Linked DNA regions of Homo sapiens. The protein of the gene in region 2 interacts with the protein of the main gene of each other region in a biochemical or structural test. Each region holds a gene or a part of one and is shown on either strand. Other genes may lie near its edges.

Region 1 (7,351 bases), on a different chromosome or scaffold from region 2:
CCAGGTTCAAGCAATTCTCCCTACCTCAGCCTCCTGAGTAGCTGGGATTACAAGCATCTGCCACCACGCCCAGCTAAATTTTGTATTTTTAGTAGAAAAAAGGTTTCACCATGTTGGCCAGGCTGGTCTTCAACTCCTGATCTCAGGTGATCCACCCACCTTGGCCTCCCAAAGTGCTGGAATTACAGGCGTGAGCCACCGCGCCAGGCCTCTAACTTCTAATTTCATGCTTTTCCTATTGTCTCTTGATGAGTGTGTGTTTGTGGGGGGCACACTTTATTTAAGCAAGGAAGAGCTGACTTTTATAAAATTTTAAGTACAATTTATACCCTCAGACACTGGCATGTGGCCTAAAGGTAATAAAAGGGCTTTATGGGTGTCTCAGATGTTCAGTTGTCTGATGGTCTGGTCTTTCTTTTTTCTTTTTCAACTCTGTATGTCTCTCCTTGTCCTTGCTTTCCCCGGAGAGCTAGAGTAGACTGAAATGGGAAGACAAAAAATCAAGGAGGAGCTTCCTAAAAATGGTTTAACCTCAGGCAAAAGTACTTTCTAGACAACCCTTTTGGAACTGACTCCTTTAAGTAATCTTTGCTTGGGTCTCTGGAGACCTTGGATATCCCAAGGGCCAAAGAAAACAAAGCTGAGGTGTAAACAACACAAGAGGTGACCCATTTGTTTCCCAGCCACTCAGAATAATCATATCTTATCCAATGCCTTCTATGCGTCAGGAATTTTGTATTTATTATTTCACTTTGTCTTTGTAACCAGTATTATCTTCATTTGACAGATGAAGAAACCCGGGCTCAGAAAAGCTATATAACTTGTCCAAGATCTCAAAACTAATTAGTGACATAGCAGATACTTAAACCCAAGTCACTTCTTATACCAAAGAAAGTAAATTCAGTTAACCTTTCAAAATTTCCTTCATCTTTTACTATAACTTAACCTTTCCCACCCCCCACTTTTGTTTTTTTTGTAGATTTTATCCCAACCAGACTATAAGCTTCCACGTTGCTTAATATATCTTGGAGGAAAGACAAGGGTTTTGAAGCTAGACAAAGTGGGTTTGATTCCCAGCTCTCCTACATGCTTGGTGTATGACTTTAAAAGAGAATGTTAATAAGAAAAATAGTAAGAAAAAAAGAGAGAGGGCGAAAAAGAGATGTAACTCACACAAAAAAAGTTAATATTAGAGAAGTCTGGGAAAATTATATACCAACTTTATCAACTGGTCTGGCTTAACTAAAAAATCAATACAAATATATCATTAACTGAACTTTTTTTTTTTTTGAGACAGGGTCTTGCTCTGTCACCCACACTGGAGTGCAGTGGCGCAATTTTGGCTCACTGCAACCTCCGCCTCCCGGGTTCAAGCAATTCTCCTGTCTCAGCCTCCCGAGTAGCTGGTGACTATAGGCGCATGCCACCACACCTGGCTAATTTTTGTATTTTTAGTAGAGACGGGGTTTCACCGTGTTAGCTAGGATGGTCTCGATCTCCTGACCTTGTGATCCACCTGCCTCGGCCTCCCAAAGTGTTGGGATTACAAGCGTGAGCCACCGCGCCCGGCCAACTGAACGTTTGATATGGCCTGCATAAGGAACAAGACAATGGTCAAGATTTTCTAAGTATCCAGAGCGAGTATTTCTAGGAGAGCAAGATTCTCAGAACTGCTCTAAAAGGTCAGGGTTCATTTCATACCCTCCTCTAGACTCCCACTATACTTGGTTCTACACTTCTAAACACAGCACTCCTCCTTTGCCTGTTGTTAACAATCTCTGGACTCCTTCCATTGCTGAGTGTCTGTAATTCTTAGTACAGTACAATGCTTGATACACAACAGGCATCTATAATCATTAACCGAATTAAAAGAAATGTACCGGCTGGGGCGCGGTGGCTCACACCTGTAATCCCAGCACTTTGGGAGGCCAAGGTGGGCAGGAGATCGAGACTATCCTGGCCAACATGGTGAAACCCTGTTTCTACTATGGTGAAACCCTGTCTCTACTAAAGATTTAAAGATTTACTCTAGCTAAATCTAAAAACTGGTTGGGCGTGGTGGCGCGCTCCTGTAGTCTCAGCTACTCAGGAGGCTGAGAGAGGAGAATCGCTTGAACCCGGGAGGTGGAGGTTGTAGTGAGCCGAGATCATGCCACTGCACTCCAGTCTCCAGCCTGGGTGACAGAGCAAGACTCCATCTCCTTAAAAAAAAAAAAAAAAGAAATGTGCCGCTGGGTGTGGTGCCTCACGCCTATAATCCCAGCACTTTGGGAGGCTGAGGCAGGCAGATAACCTGAGGTCAGAAGTTCAAGACCAGCCTGGCCAACACAGTGAAACCTTGTCTCTACTAAAAATACAAAACTTAGCCAGGCGTGGTGCCGCCTGCCTGTCAAAAATTAGCCAGGTGTGGTGTCATGCGCCTGTAATCCCAGTTACTTGAGAGGCTGAGGCACAAGAATCGCTTGAACCCGGGAAGCAGAGGTTGCAGTGAGCCAAGATTGCGTTACTGCACTCCAGCCTGAGTGACATAGTGAGAACCTGTTTCAAAAAAAAACAAATACAAAAAAGTATGGTTAACACCCTCAACTTCCCTTAAACAACTCACATGACTTTATCATCCCCAAATTTATAATTCTCAACTTTTCTGTTGGTATCATCTTTTGGAATCAGAAGTCCCATAAGCTTACTATTGCAAAACAACTTCATTTGTTTTATTTATCAAATTACTTATTGTTTCAAGCAAGAGCACAAAGCCAATAGGTTCTTTATTTTTTTTGGAATCATGGGTCCCTCTGAGAATTTGATGGAAGCTACTGATTAGCAACCCAGAAAAAAATATAAACTCATAATATATTATATACAATATTGGCTATGGGTATAGAAAGGCTGGGTATTGGTTAAAAAAAAATCCCCCAAAGGCCTGTTACAAGCCCTTTCATATGGGCTCAATTTTTACATTCCAGGACAGTAGAAAACTCTGTCATATTGACTATGGTCTCCCAAATCTTTTCCTTAGTGCACAATTTAGAGCTTTGCAACTTTGAAAATTTTTTTTTTTAATTTTAAGGCAATTTTAGATTTATATGCAGTTCTAAGAAATAACAGAGATCCTGTATACTTTAGTTTTCCCCATAACATTTTGCATATCTGTATCACAATCAGAAAATTAACATTAAAATAAGAAAATTTGTTGTACAGGTTTCATGGAAAAAAAATTAACAATTGACTTTATTAGGATTTCACCACCTTTACATGTACTTGTTTGCTTAGTTCTATGCAATTTAATCAGACTCATGTGACCACCACCTCAGTCAAGATACAGAACAGTTCCATCATGAGGATCCTTACCCTTTGATAGCCAGTCACCGTTTTCCCTCATCTCTCACCACTGGCAACCACTAATATAGTCTTCATCTCCACTATTCTGTTTCTTCAAGAATGTTATATTAATGAAATCATATAGTATGTAACCTTTTGAGATTGGCTTTCTTCACTCAGCTTAATTCTCTTGTGATCAAGCAAGTTGCTGCATTTATTAACAGTTCCTTTTTTTTTTTTTTTTTATTGCACAGTACTGTTCCACTGTATGGGTGTGCCAGTTTATTGGAGGCATTTGGTTTGTTTCCAGTTTTTGGCTACTATGAATAAAGCTGCTGTGAACATTCATGTACAGGTTTTGTGTTGAGTTTTAATTTCCCTGAAATAAATACCCAAGAATGCAACTGTTGAACGATACGGTAAGCACGTTTTTTTTTTGAGACAGGATCTCACTGTTGCCCAAGCTGGAGTGCAGTGGCACGATCTCAGCTCAAGGCAGCCTCGACCTCCTGGGTTCAAGCGATTCTTCCACCTCAGCCTAAGACCAATCTCCTGGGTTCAAGTGATCCTTCTGCTTCAGGCTCCCGGGTAGTTGGGACTATGGGTGTGTGCCGCCATTCTCAGCTAATTTTTAAATTTTCTGTAGAGACAAGCTCTCACTAGGGCTCAAGCAATCCTCTCACCTTGGCCTCCCAAAGTCCTGGGATTACAGGCATGAGCCACCATGCCCAGCCAATAAGCACATTTAGTTTTGTAAAAAACAAAAAACAAACAAACAAACAAAACCTGCATTGGGCTGGGCATGGTGGCTCACACCTGTAACACAGGCACTTTGGGAGGCTGAAGAGGGAGGATCATGGTCAGGAATTTGAGACCAGCCTGGCCAACACGGTGAAACCCCATCTCTACTAAAAATACAAAAATCAGCCGGGCATGGTGGTGGGCGCCTGTAATCCCACCTACTCGGGAGGCTGAGGCAGGAGAACTGCTTGAAACCGAAAGGTAGAGGTAGCAGTCAGCCAAGATCGCGCCACTGCACTCCAGCGTGAGCGACAGAGCGAGACTCAATCTCAAAACAAACAAACAAACAAAAAAACAAAACCTGCAATATCACAGATAAATGTATACTTAATGATATTCTGCTTTATCTTACTAGGCTTTGTTTTATAGAAATAGTATTATACTGTATGTAGTCTTATGGGATGTACTTTCTTCATATAACATTAGATTTTGGAGATTTCTCCATGTTGTTGCCTGCAGCTATAGTTCATCCATTTTCACTGCTGTACAAATATTTTCTTTTTCTTTCTTTCTTTCTTTTTGTTTTTTTTTGAGATTGAGTTTCACTTGTTGGCTAGATCTCAGCTCACTGCAACCTCTGTCTCCCGGGTTTCAGCAATTCTCCTGCCTCAGCCTTCCAAGTAGCCGGCATTACAGGCACCTGCCACCACGCCCAACTAATTTTTGTATTTTTAGTAAAGACAGGGTTTCACCATGTTGGTCAGGCTGGTCTTAAACTCCTGACCTCAGTTAATCCACCCGCCTCTGCCTCCCAAAATGCTGGGATTACAGGCGTGAGAAACTGTGCCCAGCCAAATATTTTCTGTTGTAAATCTATCACATTATCCAATGAATGGTGAAACAAGTTGCAATGTTTTGTGAACAAGGTACACCATTTCATGAATCAAGTGCTCATGTATAAGTTTCTTTGAGCATATTCCTAGAAAAGGTGTTGCTGGTTTTTTGTTTGTTTGTTTGTTTTTTAAGACAGAGTCTCGCTCTGTCGCCCAGGCTGGAGTGCAGTGGCGGCGCAATCTCGGCTCACTGCAAACTCCACCTCCTGGGTTCAAGTGATTCTCCTGCCTCAGCCTCCTGAGTAGCTGGAATTACAGGCTCCCGAGTAGCTAGGATTACAGGCACGTGCCACCACACCCAGCTATCTTTTGTATTTTTAGTAGAGACAGGGTTTCACCATGTTGGTCAGACTGGTCTCGAACTTCTGACCTCAAGTGATCCGACTGCCTTGGCATCCCAAAGTGCTGGGATTACAGGCATGGGCCACCGCACCTGGCCTTACTCTCCAGTTTGTTTGTTTGTTTGTTTTTGAGACGGAGTCTCACTCTGTCCCCCAGGCTGGAGTGCAGTGGCGCGATCTCGGCTCACTGCAAACTCCGCCTCCCGGGTTCACGCCATTCTCCTGCCTCAGCCTCCCCAGTAGCTGGGACTACAGGCGCCCGCCACTGCGCCCGGCTAATTTTTTTGTATCTTTTAGTAGAGACGGGGTTTCACTGTGTTAGCCAGGATGGTCTTGATCTCCTGACCTCGTGATCCACCCGCCTCGGCCTCCCAACGTGCTGGGATTACAGGCGTGAGCCACCGCACCCGGCCTGTTTGCTTTTTTGAGACGGAGTCTCACACTGTCGCCCAGGCTGGAGTGCAGTGGTGCGATCTTGGCTCACTGCAACCTCCGTCTCCTGAGTTCAAATGATCTTCCTGCCTTAGCCTCCTGAGTAGCTGGGATTACAGGCGCCCACCACCACACCAGGGGTAATTTTTTGTATTTTTAGTAGAGACAGGGTTTCACCACGTTGGCCAGGCTGGTCTCGAACTCCTGACCTCGTGCTTTGCCTGCCTCGGCCTCCCAAAGTGCTGGGATTACAGGCATGAGCCACCAGGCCCGGCCCTTATTTTCCAGTTTTAAAAGCAGGTTTTGCTAGCCCTGTAGAATGAACTGGGAAGGTCTTAATGTATTTCTAGAGAATACTGTAAATAAAGGAATTAACTATTTTGAAGTTTCAACAGACTTTGTAAATGTTTTCCACTGTATGCTTTTGAAGGATGGATTTTTGAGTATCTCTCCAAGATCTTTTGCAGATTGCTAATCTATTCAAAATGTTTATTCTTGAGTCACTTATACTAACTTGTATTTCCCTAATTGTAGAAAGTAGAAAAATAGGCCGGGCGCAGTGGCTCATGCCTGTAATTCCAGCACTTTGGGAGGCCGAGGCAGGCGGATCACCTGAGGTCGGGAGTTTGAGACCAGCCTGACCAACATGGAGAAACCCCGTCTCTACTAAAAATACGAAATTAGCCGGGCGTGGTGGCACATGCCTATAATCCCAGCTACCAGGGAAGCTGAGGCAGGAGAATTGCTTGAACCTGGGAGGTGGAGGTTGCGGTGAGCCAAGATCGCGCCATTGCACTCCAGCCTGGGCAACAAAAGTGCAACTCCGTCTCAAAAAAAAAAAAAAAAAAAAAAAAGTAGAAAAAGAACACTGGTATCTATACAACAGCATTTTACTTACTATATAAATATATTAACACAATAAGGTAAATTATTTCTCTTCCAGAAAACAAAGATAGATGATTGAATCCTTATGTCTGCAGACACATTCGAATATATACAACAGCATTTTACTTAGTATATAAATATATTAACACAATAAGGTAAATTATTTCTCTTCCAGAAAACAAAGATGGATGATTGAATCCTTATGTCTGCAGATACATTCGACAGTCATCACAGCTGAATATCAATCTGGCTAACATAGAAGTCTACATTCAAAATCTACATCCCTCAAAATTTTGTCTTTTTTTTTTTTTTGAGACGGAGTCTTGCTTCTTCACCCAGGCTGGAGTGCAATGGTGCAATCTGGGCTCACTGTAACCTCCAACTCCCGGTTTCAAGTGATTCTCCTGCCTCAGCCTCCCAAGTAGCTGGGATTACAGGCATGTGCCACCACGCCCGGCTAATTTTTGTATTTTTGGTAGAGACGGGGTTTCACCATGTTGGCCAGGCTGGTCTTGAACTCCTGACCTCAAGTGATCCGTCTGCCTCAGCCTCCCAAAGTGTTGGGATTATAGGTGTGAGCCACCGTGCACGGCTGTCATCATTTTTTCATCAGTCCCATCTTCAATGAAGGTGAATATGTATTATTTCGTGAAATATTTAATAAGAGGCCACTCTGTGCAGCACTCTTCAAGGCATAGAAGATACAACGGTGAACAAAGTAGACAAAAGATTCCTGCGCTC
Region 2 (7,469 bases):
GCTCCCTGAGAAGAAATTTCTAGAAGTGGAATTGTACAGTGCCAAATGGTCCTTCAGGAAGCTCAGGACCATTTCCTTACACCCTGCCAATACCATTTTTTTTTTACATATTTCTGTCTTCAAGCTGTTTTTTAATTAAATTTGCAATTATTCAATCACTGGCGAGACTAAATAGTTGAGGACTTTTTATATGGTTTTGTGTGTGTGTGTGTTCATTTGTTTTAAGAGACAGAGTCTCACGCTTTCACTCAGGCTAGAGTGCAGTGGTGCAGTCTTGGCTCACTGCAGCTTTGACCTCCCGGGTTCAAGCGATCCTCCCACCTGAGCCTCCTGAGTAGCTGGGGCTACAGGCATGAACCATCACACCCAGCTAATTTTTTTGTATTTATAGAGAAAAAATTTGGGTTTCCCCATGTTGCCCAGGCTGGTCTTGAACTCCTGGGCTCAAACAATCTGCCCACCTTAACCTCCCAAAGTGCTGGGATTATAGGCATGAGCCACCATGCCCAGCCTGTATATGTTTTATTATGAAGTGTCTATCCAAGTTCCTTGCCCATTCTTATACTGATATGTTCCTCTTTGTTTTGGGTTTTGTTGTTTTAATTTATAAAAGCACTTTCTACATTAAGGAACTTTTTCCAAATTTGTATTTGCCTTTTACCTCCTTTTTTTTGGGAAGAGATTTCTAGTGGCAGAATAAAGGATGGACAGATGGGGAAAATACAAAAGGGAAAAAGTGCATTACAAGTGACCTGCAAGAAGTGAGACCCCCTGAGGTTCCCTTACTCCCTCCGATCAACACACCAGCAAGACCTGTTGACACTAGCTGCAACATACATTCCAAATCCACACACCTCTCACCATCTCCACTTCCACCACCCTGCTCTGAGCTTCCCAACTGGTCTCCTTGCCTCCCCTCCCTGTTTTCTTCAAATCCATTCTCCACCCTGCAGTCTAGAAGAGCTTTCCAGAACGCATCCGAAGATGCCACCCACTTCAATCAAACCAAAGGCTTTTCCACTGCATTTAGAAAATGACCCATCTCCCCAGGTTCTATCTCCTTCCCCGGCACACCCCCAACCCCTCTCCCCCTACTTGCCACTCTAACCATTCTGGAATATTCTGGCTCTCCCAGGTTTATCAAACACACTCCTCTACTCAGGGTTATGTACATCTGCAGTCCCCCTCAGCCTCAAATTATTTTCCCCCAAATAGTCACATGGCTGGCTGGGCACAGTGGCTCAAGCCTGTAATCCCAGCACTTTGGGAGGCCAAGGAGGGTGGATCACTTGAGGCCAGGAGTTGGAGACCAGCCTGGCCAACATGGCAAAACCCTATCTCTACTAAAAATACAAAAATTAGCCGGCTGTGGTGGCGGGTGCCTATAGTCCCAACTACTTGGGAAGCTGAGGCATGAAAATCATTTGAACCCAGGAGGTAGAGGCTGCAGTGAGCCGAGATCACACCACTGCACTTCAGCCTGGGCAACAGAGCAAGATTCCATCTCCCAAAAAAAAAAAAAAGTTGAAAACAAATCAAAAGAAGAATAATACTTCACGGCCCATGAAAATTATAACAAATTCAAATTTCAGTCCATAAATAAAGTTTTATTGGAACACAGGCACGCCCATTGGCTTTCGGATTATCTCTGGCTGCTTTTGCACTACAGCAGCAGAGTGGATTAGTTGTGACAGAGACCATATGGGATGCTCTCACTGCTTGTCACTGCCTCTGGCGCACTACAGATCACACCGATGCAGCCGTAACTCAGTTTTGCCTCATGGCCCACACAGCCTAAAATGTTTCCTGGCCTTTTACAGAAAGATTTGCCAACGCAAGTTAAGAAGGAGAAGGCTTTAAGAAATGTTTCTGGCCGGGCGCAGTGGCTCATGCCTGTAACCCTAGCACTTTGGGAGGCCAAGGCGGGCGGATCATGAGGTCAGGAGTTTGAGTCCAGCCTGACCAGCGTGGTGAAACCCCATCTCTATTAAAAATACAAAAATTAGCCGGGCGTGGTGGTGCGTGCCTGTAATAGCTACTCAGGAGGCTGAGGCAGGAGAATCGCTTGAACCCAGGAGGTGGAGGTTGCAGTGAGCCAAGATCGTGCCTTTACACTCCAGCCTGAGCGACAGAGCAAGACTCCGTCTCAAAAAAAAAAAAAAGAAAAAAAGAAATGCTTCTAAGGAAGAAGGGAAGGGACGAGGCTTGCTAGCCTACTGAACAGGAGAGGAAAGGTAAGGGGAGAGATATCAGGGAACTTGGTGGACAGATGGTGGTGACATTCACTAAAGTTTAGAGCAGGGGTGTCCAATCTTTTGGCTTCCCTGGGCCACACTGAAAGAAGAAAAATTATATTGGGCCTCACATAAAATACACTAACGCTACTATAGCTGATGAGCTAAAAAATATATATCTCACAAAAAAAAAAAACCCTCATGTTTTAAGAAAGTTTACAAACCTAAGAACAGGCACGGTGGTTCACGCCTGTAATCCCAGCACTTTGGGAGGCCAAGGCAGGTGGATCACCTGAGGTGGGAAGTTCAAGACCAGACTGACCAACATGGAGAAATCCCATCTCTACTAAAAATACAAAACTAGCCGGGTGTGGTGGCGCATGCCCGTAATCCCAGCTACCCAGGAGGCTGAGGTAGGAGGATCGCTAGAACCCAGGAGGCAGAGGTTACAGTGAGCCGAGATCACGCCATTGTACTCCAGCCTGGGCAACGAGAGCGGAACTCCGTCTCAAAAAAAAAAAAAGAAAGTTTCCAAATTTGTGTTGGGCCCCATTCAAAGGCCATCCTGGGCCACATGTTCCACAAGCTTGGTTTAGAGGTTGGGAACAGAAGGCAGTGAAGAGGCTGGGCACGGTGGCTCATGCCTGTAATCTCAGCACTTTGGGAGGCCAAGGTGGGAGGATCACTTGAGCCCAAGAGTTTGAGACCAGTCTGAGAAACATGGTGAAACCCTGTCTCTACAAAAAATACAAAAATTAGCCAGGCATGGTGGCAGGTGCCTATAGTCCAAGCTACTTGGAGGATCGTTTGAGCCCAGGAGGTCAAGGCAGCAGTGAGCCATGATCATGCCACTATACTCCAGCCTGGGCAACAGAGCAAGACCCTGTGTCAAAAAAAAAAAAAAAAAAGGCAGTAAGGAGAGGAGAGAGGGCTGGGCACGGTGGCTCACGCCTGTAATCCCAGCACTTTGGGAGGCTGAGGCGGGTGAATCACAAAGTCAGGAGTTCGAGACCAGCCTGGCCAACCTGGTGAAACCCCACCTCTACTAAAAATACAAAAATTAGCCAGGCATGGTGGTGGAAGCCTGTAATCACAGCTACTCAGGAGGCTGAGGCAGGAGAATCACTTGAACCCAGGAGGCGGAGGTTGTAGTGAGCCGAGATCACGCCACTGCACTCCAGCCTGGGCAACAAAGCAAGACTCCATCTCAAAAAAAAAAAAAAAAAAGAGGAGAGAGATGATGAGTTTAGTTTTGACATATGAAATTTGAGTACCTAGAGGTTGAATCTGAAAACCAGCTCCAAGCTCAAGAAGAGTAGTAGACGGAGAACTAGGAAGTTAAACTAAAAACAAATTCTTAAAGATGGTAGGGAAGACAGAAAACGTGAAGAAAGGAGGTGGGTGGATCCTCTTAAGACTCCTCAAAAACTTCTCACAGTTCATATACCTACTGCAACTAAACTTTCACAACGTCACAACATGTTCTGGTCAGCCAAGGAAAAGCCAGAGAGATCTGCCAGCCGCCACTTCTTCTTCTCGCCATAGGCATAAATACCACCCCAGAAGCCTCGCCATTGCAGGGAGACAGAGAAATATACTAATTTTGCATTTAAGTACAGAGGAATCCCTCCTGACATTTTGTTAGAAAGCCTGTCATGTGTCGCCTTGCTGCTGTGAGTAATAAGACAGCACAGTCCCCTGGGCTGGCCTGATAATAGTCAAAATACCTTACATGTACACAAGGTTTCCTGGTTTACCAAAAAACATTTTCTTTCACCAGCGAAGTGAGGATCAGTATCCGTGTTCACAGACAAGGTCTACCACACCATCAGAAAAAAGCTGGGCTTTTCCAGACTGAGAAGAGTACGTGAAGGTCAGCCTCTCATTCATGTTTCTAGGTGGTAACAGACATCAGGGATCCACAGAGCGGTGAACAGATGTCAGGGATTCCCGCCGACTTGTTGCTAAGGGAACTTTTGTGAAAATGCCCTGAATCCACTCAATCCATAAGCCTTGCTCATTGCTTTAAAGTCCTGTGGGGTAGCCACTGACCAGTCCAGCACACAAGTGTGACAAAAGAGGTGGTTCCTTCTGAGCTGAGGCTGACAGAGTGGTGGGCCAAAGGTCATTTTCTAACACCAGGAGCTACAAATACTGGCCACAGCCCCCATACCAAGGAGGAGGGTGATTTAGTGAAGATGTCAGAAAGCACGCTGGTCTTTTCAGTCACAATTACCCACCCCTCCGAGCCACAAGCCCTAATTGCACCTTTTGTGAACAGAGTTGATGACTGACTGAAAAATACTAGCATGAGGGACAAGGTCACACTCATTTTGGGTGATTTTCATGTTGCAGAAAGAAAGGAAAAGGCTCTGTATTAAAATCAATTTGTGTAATATAGCAAACATCTATTAGATGTCAGGGAGCTCAGATCCACTATGTCTATGAATCATCAGCACTGAACAGCCCTGGCCTAAAAAAAGCTGGACTGGTATGTCAATGGCTTAGTGGACAGGCCCAGAGCCAGGCAAATCTGATTTCAAATTCCAGCTGCATCGTTTATCATGTGGCCTTTAGAAAGAAACCTCTAGAGTCAAAAAAAAAAAAAAAAAACCCTCCAAGGATTGCGATAGAGGTAGAACTGCCAAGTCTCTGCATTTTACCTCCCTCTTGGGGTTCTCTCTCTCATCAGTCTGGCCCAGCACTACCTCCTCACTAATGGATCATCTGTCCCATGTATGTTCTCCCTAGCCTTCTGAGGGAGCTAGTCTGCAATATGGCCCTCGATGAACCACGCCTCCCTCATAACCGCACCTGTACCCACCTCCCTTCCAAATTGACTCTGGACAGACCTGTGACTACTTTCCCAATAGAATGTGGCAGAAACGATATGCCAGTTCTGGGCCCAGACCTTAAGAGGGCCTGGCAATGTATGCCTTTGCATTCTTAGAAGCCAGCTACCACATAACTCCTGAAGAGAAAGGCCATGTGGAAAGGCCCTGGAGAATGAAACACTACATGGAGAAAGGCGCCACATGGAAGAACATCAAAGCACCAGACAGGTGAGTGAAGATGACATTTTGGAGGCTGCAGTCTAGTTGAGCCTCCAAGACTCTGCCCCAGCCACCATCTGATTGCAACTGCATGAGAGACACTGAGACAGACCAGCAGAAGAACCACCCAGCTGAGCCCCGTCAATCCACAAAACCATGCCAGATAATAAGAAATTGTTGCTTTGAAACACTAAATCTTGGAGTGGCTTGTTACATGGCAATAGATAAAACATCATTCCTTAATTATCCATAGCACAGCCCACTCTCTCCCACAGACACTCCTTATCAACTCCTGCAGCACAACTGCATGAACCCAAAATGGGAGAACAAAGGGTAGAGTGAAGAAAATCAAGTTTAACGGTGACCCTCAGCAGCCATTCTAGTTGTGCCAGCAAACAGTGTCATATTCTGTTAGTAACCCAGAAAGAAAGGAAAAGGCTCTTTTTAGGAAAGAGAAAAGGTCCAGATTATCCAGCCAGATCCTGGATTCTAAGAATACCACCTAGTTCAAAGAAAGCTCTATTTTGTTTGCATTCCAATCCCATTGTCCCCCAGAATTATTTCCCAAAAGCTCTGGGAAGTTTTGTAGATGCCTTACAACATTCCCCAGGTCCCTAATTTCTTCTCTCCATTCAAGGAAAGTACAGGCCACAGGAATTCCTGGACCCTATTAAACCCTCCAACCACTGACCTGTCCAGCCACTGGGCTTGTCCTGGTACCATGTCTTTCTCTCCAAATTTTCCCCAGGATGGAGATCTAGGATTCTCTATCCACCTTCCCCAGGAGCTATTTCTCAGCCTTGATGTACCCTAGAAAGCTGGTGGAAATATTCCCACATGTGGGGTTCCCAGGTCTATGGAGGCAATCTCAGGCCTAGCTTGGAGCTGGCAGAACATGCTCCCACAGCTCCTATCTCTGGTCTCAGGTCTCTTCCTCTACCATATCTCTCAAATGATGTTAAAAAGACTTCTCGGCCGGGCACAGTGGCTCACGCCTGTAATCCCAGCACTTTGGGAGGCCGAGGCGGGTGGATCACAAGGTGAGGAGATCGAGACCATGCTGGCTAACACGGCGAAACCTCACCTCTACTCAAAATACAACTGCACTCCAGCCTGAGCAACAGTGCGAGACTCTGTCTCAAAAAAAAAAAAAAAAAAAAAAAAAGACTTCTTAATTCCTGTCCCTCGTCATAGCAGAAGAAACCCTCAGGAAAGATTTTTCTAGTTGATTTTATCTAATAACCAGCTGTGGGCCTTGGCTGTAAGGCCTATTCCTTTTCTGGAGGTAGGTGTTTCCCTCTGCCCATCCTTTGAAGAGCTGCACCACCCCGAGTAGGAAGAACCCTTGTGGCCAGAGTCCTTGGGCCTACCAGAGACCTCTACACTTCCCTGCCTGTGCTGAGGTTTTCCTGGAAGCTGCTCTCTGGAAGCCAAGTATGTGCTATACCATTTCCTTGGAGTCTTGACCAAAGAGATTGCCCCAAAAACCAAGACCTCCTCCAAGCTGGCCTCCTCCCAAGGGCTAGCTGGCCACTGGGTCAGATCTGGTGACTCTCTTGGAGTTAGCTCCCAACTCCCCTCCCCCGTGTATGCTTCCTGCAAAGGCTGGGTCTCTCGGTTCCCCTTGCTTCATCTGAACAAGGAAGATCTCCTTGGGAAGTATCCAGTGTGCACACAGTATTCAGTGCCTCCCTCCCCTCCACCAAGATGGGGTTTCCTAGTATCACTCTTTCTATCAGGGTGAAAGTTCCGCTGGAGTAGGGAGCACATTAGAGATGCCATATTCATCTGTGTACCCACAATCCCATCCCTAGGCCAGGAGGCTAGTACAGTCCATCTGTCTGTACTTGTTTCTCCAACAGCTGCCCTGGCCTTCTGAACTCCATGCTCCCAAGCAAGCTGAGTGACAGCACCACATTGGCTGACATCTCATGAGGTTCGCCATCTCCAGTATCTATGGGCCCCCTCTCTAGTCTCATGAGTCCAGATGCTGGCCAGTCTACCCACCAGCCTGGGGACCTCTGCATTCTCTGAGTCTGCCCTTCAGGACTCACCCCATCCCAAGCAACTCTGCTTGCATGTCCTCTATCTCTACCTAGCCTTCAGCCTTGAGGTCCAACTTGCTCATGTAGGAGGTTCCCAGATGCCAAGCACCTGACCCACATGCCCCCCTGTTGAAACT
Region 3 (7,351 bases), on a different chromosome or scaffold from region 2:
TGTAAAATGATGTCTAAATCCCTGAATTTTATAGCCCTACCAAAAAAAAAACTTTTTCAGAGAATTGACTAAAAGAGGTATTTCACTACACAGAAAGAAAACTATGCATAAAGTACAGAATTGAAAAAACAAAAACTCCCCCAAGTACCCTGTTTTACTTTATCTTGAGTCAGCATATTTTCATAAAACATAAAATACTATAATTTCAAATTTCAGAAGATCTAAAATAAATTTAAATATTTATATACTTAAATTTCCAGTTCTCAGAATTGGAACTTTATTCTCCATGAATATTCTAATTATAATATTTTAAAAGTCAGGATTATTTTATGTGACAGATAAAATTACAGTGATGTTAAAGGATACACTTAAACATAGTAATTAAAACCCTTGTCTCTTGGGTCAAGTGCATAATAGCCTATATGACCTTAGGCAAGTTGCCTAACCTCTCAGCCTCAGTTACCTAACCCATAAATTGAGGATATTATTACTACCTACTGCATAGGGTACACTGTTAAAATATTTAAAAGATAAGATACACATAAACTGTTTATTTAGGTGCCTGGCACATATGTAGTTAATAAATAAGTTCCAAATATTTTTTTAAATAAAACTTCTTTATATACATGGATACACATAGTGAGTTCTCAATTATGGAAACAAGATTTTCCATAAAAACAATTCTAGGCTGGGCTCAGTGGCTCACGCCTGTAATCCCAGCACTTTGGGAGGCCGAGGTGGGCAGATCGCGAGGTCAGGAGTTCAAGACCAGCCTAGCCAACACGGTGAAACCCCGTTTCTACTAAAAATACAAAAAAAAAAAAATAGCCAGGTATGGTCTGGCGCCTGTAATCCCAGCTACTCGGGAGGCTGAGGCAGGAGAATCGCTTGAACCCGGAAGGCGCAGGTTGCAGTGAGCCAAGATCGCGCCACTGCACTCCAGCCTGGGCAACAAGAGTGAAACTCTGTCTCAAAAGAAACAAAAAAAAAACTATAGGTCAGTAGTCAATTCAATATCTCTAAGTTCCTTTTAAAACACAAATCTGATGTTATCAGTAAAAATGAAGGACAAGGATGTTTCAGAAAACTACACAATATATTATCCGGGCCACAAAAGAAACATCTTTGATTAGAAACATCAAGCCTAGACCCTATGCCATTTTAAAGTATGACTTTAAAACACATCTTTCTGCCACTCTACCACAAACCCCCATACTGAGGCCTTTCCTCAAGCTATTACAGCATAGGATTACATACCACAGCTTAACTTTACATGGTTAATGTTACTATTTTTCCAAGAACTTACCATGATGCCAAAAAAAAAAAATACAGATTTTTAAAATTCCTCTATCTATTCACAAGAGATTAAGCAACAATCAAGACACCAAAAAAAAAAGACTGCTCAGTAGCTCACACCTGCAATCCCAGCACTTGCGGAGGCCAAGGCAGGAGAATTGCTGGAGCCCACAAGTTTGAGACCACCTTGGGCAAGAGGGAGACCCTGTCTCTACAAAATGTTTAAAAATTAGCCAAACGTGGTGGTAAATATCTGTGGTCCCAGCTACCTGGGAGGCTAAGATGGAAGGACTGCTTGAGCCAGGGAGGTTGAGTCTACAGTGAGCCCTGTTCACAACCACTGCAAACTCCAGCCTAGGCAAGAGTGAGACCCTGACTCGAAAAAAAAAAAAAAAAAAAGAGAGAGAAGGAAAAAAAACAACAAAATAATCAAGATACAAAAGATGTTGGAAGTAAAAAGAACATTTACTGTGCAATTATTGTGTGCAAAACACCTATGCTTTAGAAATTATCTAAATTATCACTCAACAGAAAGGAAAGGAGCTTCTGAAAAATTAAGTAACTTGATCAAGATTTCACAACTACTGACAGGACCTACAGAGAAATTCATACCTGATTCCAAAACACTATCTAAAAATATATGTCCCCTCCCAAAAATAATGTTTAAAAACATGCTCCACTTATTCAAAACCTCCGCTGCTTAAAACCTCAGGAAGCAGTTGCTATCACGGTAAAAATCTGATCAGTTCAATCCATTTTATTTTTTTGAGACAGCATCTTGCTATATTGCCCAGGCTGGACTTGAACTCCTGGTCTCAAGAGATCCTTCTGCCTCAGCCTCCTAAGTACCTGGGATTACAAGCACGCACTACTACTGTGCCTAGCTTCAGTTTTATTTTTTAATTTCTATTCTAACTCAGGAATAAAACACATTCCTTTGCTAAAATATGGAAGAACAATTATTTTCTAGTACAATAATTGGAAAAATGCCAAAATAGGGAAGAACAAAATGATTTTCTAGTACAATGAATTAACTGAAAAAATATGAACAAGATCTCAGGAGTCAGAGTGAGAATGCTATTCGTGAGGGCACAGAAACCAGCCCCATCTGAATAATGTCAAGGATGAGGAGAAAAATACAAAATGTGGCCAATTTAGACTCGAAAGAGGAATTTGACTTAATAACCAAGAAACACCACACGTTTTGCAAAATTGAAGGAATAAAGGGACAAAGATTCTTCCCTGAGTTTTCAACAAATTGAAATTAATACCTAGAGGAAGAATAGACGTTACCTGAAATTATGGAATGTAAAAGTAATATATACCTATGATTATTTTATGTTCCAATTTTTTAAATAATGAAAATATTACAGTATGAAAATTGTCCATAAGTACTGGAAAACTTTATATCAAGAGCAAAATAAGACTCAAATTCATCAGTAGTTAGCTTTCCGATTATTTTTTTCCTCCTGTGTTATGATGTATATTTTGGCCAACCGATCTGCTTTAAGTTAGCACTTTCCCTCTTAGGTAGGTAAAAAGAAAAGAGAGCAATCTACTGCTAGTAACTTGGATTAAGAGGCTTGATAACAAAGTATACTGAAATTATTGGAAATGCTTTCAAATTAATGTAATTTTATCAATAACTACCTCTTAATTGGAGCCAATAATTGAGATCTAAAAATATAGAAATCACAGTTATTGTCCTTTAGACACAAGTTCTGAGAAAGTCATGAACTTGAAAAACTTCAACCCATTATACACTTCAAAATTAGTGATTCAAAAAAAAGAAAAAAATTTAGTGATTCAAATGAGTTATTAATTACCATTCCATTTACAAGAAGATATATATGTCACTGTTGCCTTTAAACAGTTTTCAGCTTCCAATATACAGGATCATCTCAGTTTATGAAGCAAAGGTGTTTTTGCAGTTTTTTAAAGTATATATATTGTCATACCTTTGCGGTTAAAAAGAAATTGTTATTTAAAGGACTACTGTGGAACACATACTTCTGAAATACAAATAATTATTCTGTCTTAGCAGTAAGTAGATGTCAAACTGTATCAGGCAGTAAAATAGAATAGTGAGGAATGTTTCCTAAAAGGTAGTCTTGAGCTTAATTTAATCTGGGGGTGGGGGGGAATGAACATTTATTAAGTGTCCACTATGTTCCAAGCCCCAGAAATAGAACTAGTAACAACAGCCACCATTTCCTCAGCTCTTACGCTTGCTACAAGGCACTGTACCAATACTTCCTATGGATTCACTCATTTAATTCTCCTCTTAACCTATGAGGTTAATAAAAGCGTATTCCAAAAACGTGAGATAACTGGAATATCTATTTAAGATTACAAGAGTTAGAATCAATAAGACTAGCAAGGCTTAGAAAGCCAAAAAATACAGCTTGAAGCATAACAGAAGCTGAGAGCAAATAAGTACCATGGAGCTGGTTTTGCTAGTAGACAGCCAATGTGCAGCCTTCCAGAAATTTAGTTATAACCCAGACAACTAAATTAAATCACCACAGTTAATAATTAGCAGGAAAAGAAATTACAGGTATTTAAGAATTTACATTTCAGTTATTTCAGTAGTTAACATTGGAACAATTTCAGGGATTTTTTTCTGTTCAAGTTAAGTTTGGGTCAGGATCCAGATGTATGGAATTTGGAAAAACCTTCCAAGAGGATTCTATTATGTATCCCTGGCTAGGAACCACTGATCTCCTCACTTTGTAAGTAACCTACAGCCCAGAAATGTTAAATAACTTGTTCAAACTAAAAAAAAAGTATCAGAGCATTATCTAGAATCTAGCTCTCTCAACTCACAGAATATTCTGCAAGTACGGAAAATGTTTAGAAAATAAGTGAAGTTTAGAGGTTATATGCCTGCAAGAAGAGCATTACTATTTTATACTCTAACACAGTCATGCATTGCTTAATGTCATCAGATGATTTCATCATTGTGTGAACATCAGAGCGTACTTACATAAACCTAGATGGTATAGCCTACTATACACCCAGGGTACATGGGATATAGCCTACTGCTTTCATGCTACAAACCCGTACAATGAGAATACTGCAGGCAATTGCAACATAATGGTATGTATTTTTGTATCTAAATGTATCTAAACATAAAAAAAAACAGTAAGAATACAGTGTTATCTTATGGGACTACTGTGTATAGGCAGTCCATCATTTCAGTGTTATGTGAAATATCATTATGCAGAATGACTGTATTTTGTTATCTTTATACAGATGCTCCTCAACTTAACAATAGGGTTACATTCCAATAAACCTATCTTTAATTGAAAATATCATAAATCAGCCAGGTGCGGTAGCTTACACCTGTAATCCCAGTACTTTGGCAGGCTGAAGCGAGTGGATTGCTCGACCCCAGGAGACAGAGACCAGCCTGGGCAACACGGTGAAACCCCAACTCTATCAAAAAAAATACAAAAATTAGCCTGGCATGGTGGCATGTGCCTATAGTCCCAGCTACTCAGAAGGCTGAGGTGGGAGGATCGCCTGAGCCAGGAGGCAGAGGCTGCAGTGAGCTGAGATCGTGCCATTGTACTCCAGCTTGTATGACAGAGCTAGACCCTGTCTCCAAAAAAAGAGAAGAAATGCATTTAACACACCTAACCTACCTAACATCATAGTTTAGCCTAGCCTACCTTAAACACTTACATTAGACTACAGTTGAGTAAATTATCTGGTAATACAGTACACTGCAGAGTATCAGATCACAAGAAAGTATCATACCACTTCCTACTGCATGCCATAGCTTTTGTGCCAACAAGAAGTCAACAAATTGTTAAGTCAAACCATCACAAGTTGGGGACCCTCTGTATATCCTACTGAATAAAAACTCTGCAATCTGAAATAGTAACTAGTTAGTTTCTGTCACTGGCTGCCTGAAGTTTCTATTCATACTTCAAAACCAAGTACAAATGTGACTCTCCTCTTTACCATCTCTCCCAGATTATAATCCTTAATTCCCTTCTCAAGACTCCGACAATCCTACTTACACACTGCATTTTAGTTAAATATCTATACATCTCTCTCCCCACTAAGACACTAATTTCTTGGCACTAGAGACTTCATCTTAATTTACCTCTATTTCCCTCATGCCAGGGAACACATTCAATAAACGAAGAGTAAATGAATAAATTAAAAGGGAAAACCTCAATATTTGAGAGTAACTGAAAGAATAGCTCATATGATGGCTTATAAAACAGTTTTAAAGATGCAATTTTATTACTATCTAAAATAGTCAACTATGCAATAACAAAGCATTTTCCAGTATGGGTTCTTCTACTTAAAACAAGAGAATCATTTCAAACTGGCACATATACAACCCTACTTACAAACTAACAATTCAGTAGCTTATAAAGTTATAAAGATGGGCAGACAGTGAATTTTTGAAGTCACTCATTTATGTTATGTTTGAGTTTTTGACAATAAACATATATTCCTCTGGTAATCATTAAAAAATTTTAAAGTTACTTAACAATTCCATAAAGGAAACAAAAGATGGATTATTTATCATTGCTACTTAAAAATTAAAAATAATTATTTTCCTAAGCATCTCTGGAACACGCTTCTGCATCTGATTGACCAAAAGAGAAAATAACACCCTAAGTGGAAACAAATACAATACTGAAAGGGAAGACTAAAACCAGTTCCCCTCCCTTTACCCTGCACTGCTCCCTTCACAAACATCTTTTCTTCCCCCACTAAATAAGCAGATACTGGCTAAAGACTTTCAATTTTACAATGCTAGTCCTGTTAAACTTTTCCTTAGAAAATAAATTTATCCAAAATAATGAGAAAAGGATAGGGAAAAAAAGAAAAATATTCCTCTAATGTTTTTAAAGAAGTAAAACTGCATTTAAACCACCACAATACTCCACTTTAAAAAGTTTGTAATAGTTGTATGGGTTTTTTTTTTTTTCTCATTCTCTGACCTTTACAGTACAGGCAGAAATTTAACAGGAGGAAAAGACGCAAGTATTAACTAAGATCTTTTTAATACAGAGATTAATCTCATGTTGGTAATGGTGGAGGAAAAGAAAGGAGAAGGAAAAAAAGAAGAGAGTAAACCACACACACAAAAATTTAACTGAGCAAAATGTTTTCTTTGGGTATTTGGCAGTTTTGTTGAACAGTTATACAATTTCAGAAAAACAATGTTGCCCAAAAGAGATGCTCAGATTCCTAAATACTATTTTCACATATTACCATCCTCTACCTTCAGAAGCAATTCTGTGAAGTATGTAGGGCAGGCATTATGCTCCCTACATTACAGAAAACTAAACTGAGTTCAGTTATTGTTTAAAATGAAACATAATTTCTACTCTACTACTTCACCATAAAATCATAAAGATAGAGCTGGAATAGACTTTAGTGTTCCTTTTACAGTTAATTTTCCCCATTTTACAGATGAGGAAAAGTGAAGCTCAAGAAAGTCAAATTACTAACCAATGTTAGAGAACTCTCAGTGACAGAATGAAGATTGGAATGCAAGTCTCTTAACTTCTGGCCCAGTGCTCTTAATCCCACCACCACACAAGTTGCCATGCTGGAACCTTTAAAAATGTTACAAATCTCTACATGAGTGAGTCACATTATTAGGTCTGCAAAAGGGAAACCATATATTTAAAAACAAAAAAAAAGGAATTAAGCAACAAATAAATTTAAATGTAAAGCTACCAACAACCTTCAAGTCTTTTCCCTAAAATCCGCTTTTATGTGTTCCTACATCCTCCGTCAAACTACAAGTTCCCTAAAATTCCCATAAATTGTAAATATTAAGATCTCAAAATTTTTGACTGATGAAATTAAAAAAAAAAAACATTCTTCAGTAATCATGCTCCAACTTCCCTAATAAGCGCCAAAGCATATTACTGACAATAATAAGTTATTTTACTTAACTATTTTTCATTGTATATGTTCACTAAAATATCATTTCCACTGTATACTTCCAATTGAAACAGAGTAATTAGATCTGGTAGACAATCTAATGCACATGCATTAATGAAAATGTGATAATTGA

Evidence for each region.
Region 1: the proteins of GAS7 (region 2) and KHDRBS1 form a complex in vitro, tested with the Homo sapiens proteins (one study listed by BioGRID).
Region 3: the proteins of GAS7 (region 2) and NCKAP1 form a complex in vitro, tested with the Homo sapiens proteins (one study listed by BioGRID).

The regions. Positions count from the first base shown.
Region 1 is NC_000001.11:32,016,829-32,024,179, reverse strand, and holds part of KHDRBS1 (KH domain-containing, RNA-binding, signal transduction-associated protein 1), read right to left. Parts: intron 1-7,351. UniProt on the Homo sapiens protein: Recruited and tyrosine phosphorylated by several receptor systems, for example the T-cell, leptin and insulin receptors. Once phosphorylated, functions as an adapter protein in signal transduction cascades by binding to SH2 and SH3 domain-containing proteins.
Region 2 is NC_000017.11:10,188,432-10,195,900, forward strand, and holds part of GAS7 (growth arrest-specific protein 7), read right to left. Parts: intron 1-7,469. UniProt on the Homo sapiens protein: May play a role in promoting maturation and morphological differentiation of cerebellar neurons.
Region 3 is NC_000002.12:183,028,146-183,035,496, forward strand, and holds part of NCKAP1 (nck-associated protein 1), read right to left. Parts: intron 1-7,351. UniProt on the Homo sapiens protein: Part of the WAVE complex that regulates lamellipodia formation. The WAVE complex regulates actin filament reorganization via its interaction with the Arp2/3 complex. Actin remodeling activity is regulated by RAC1.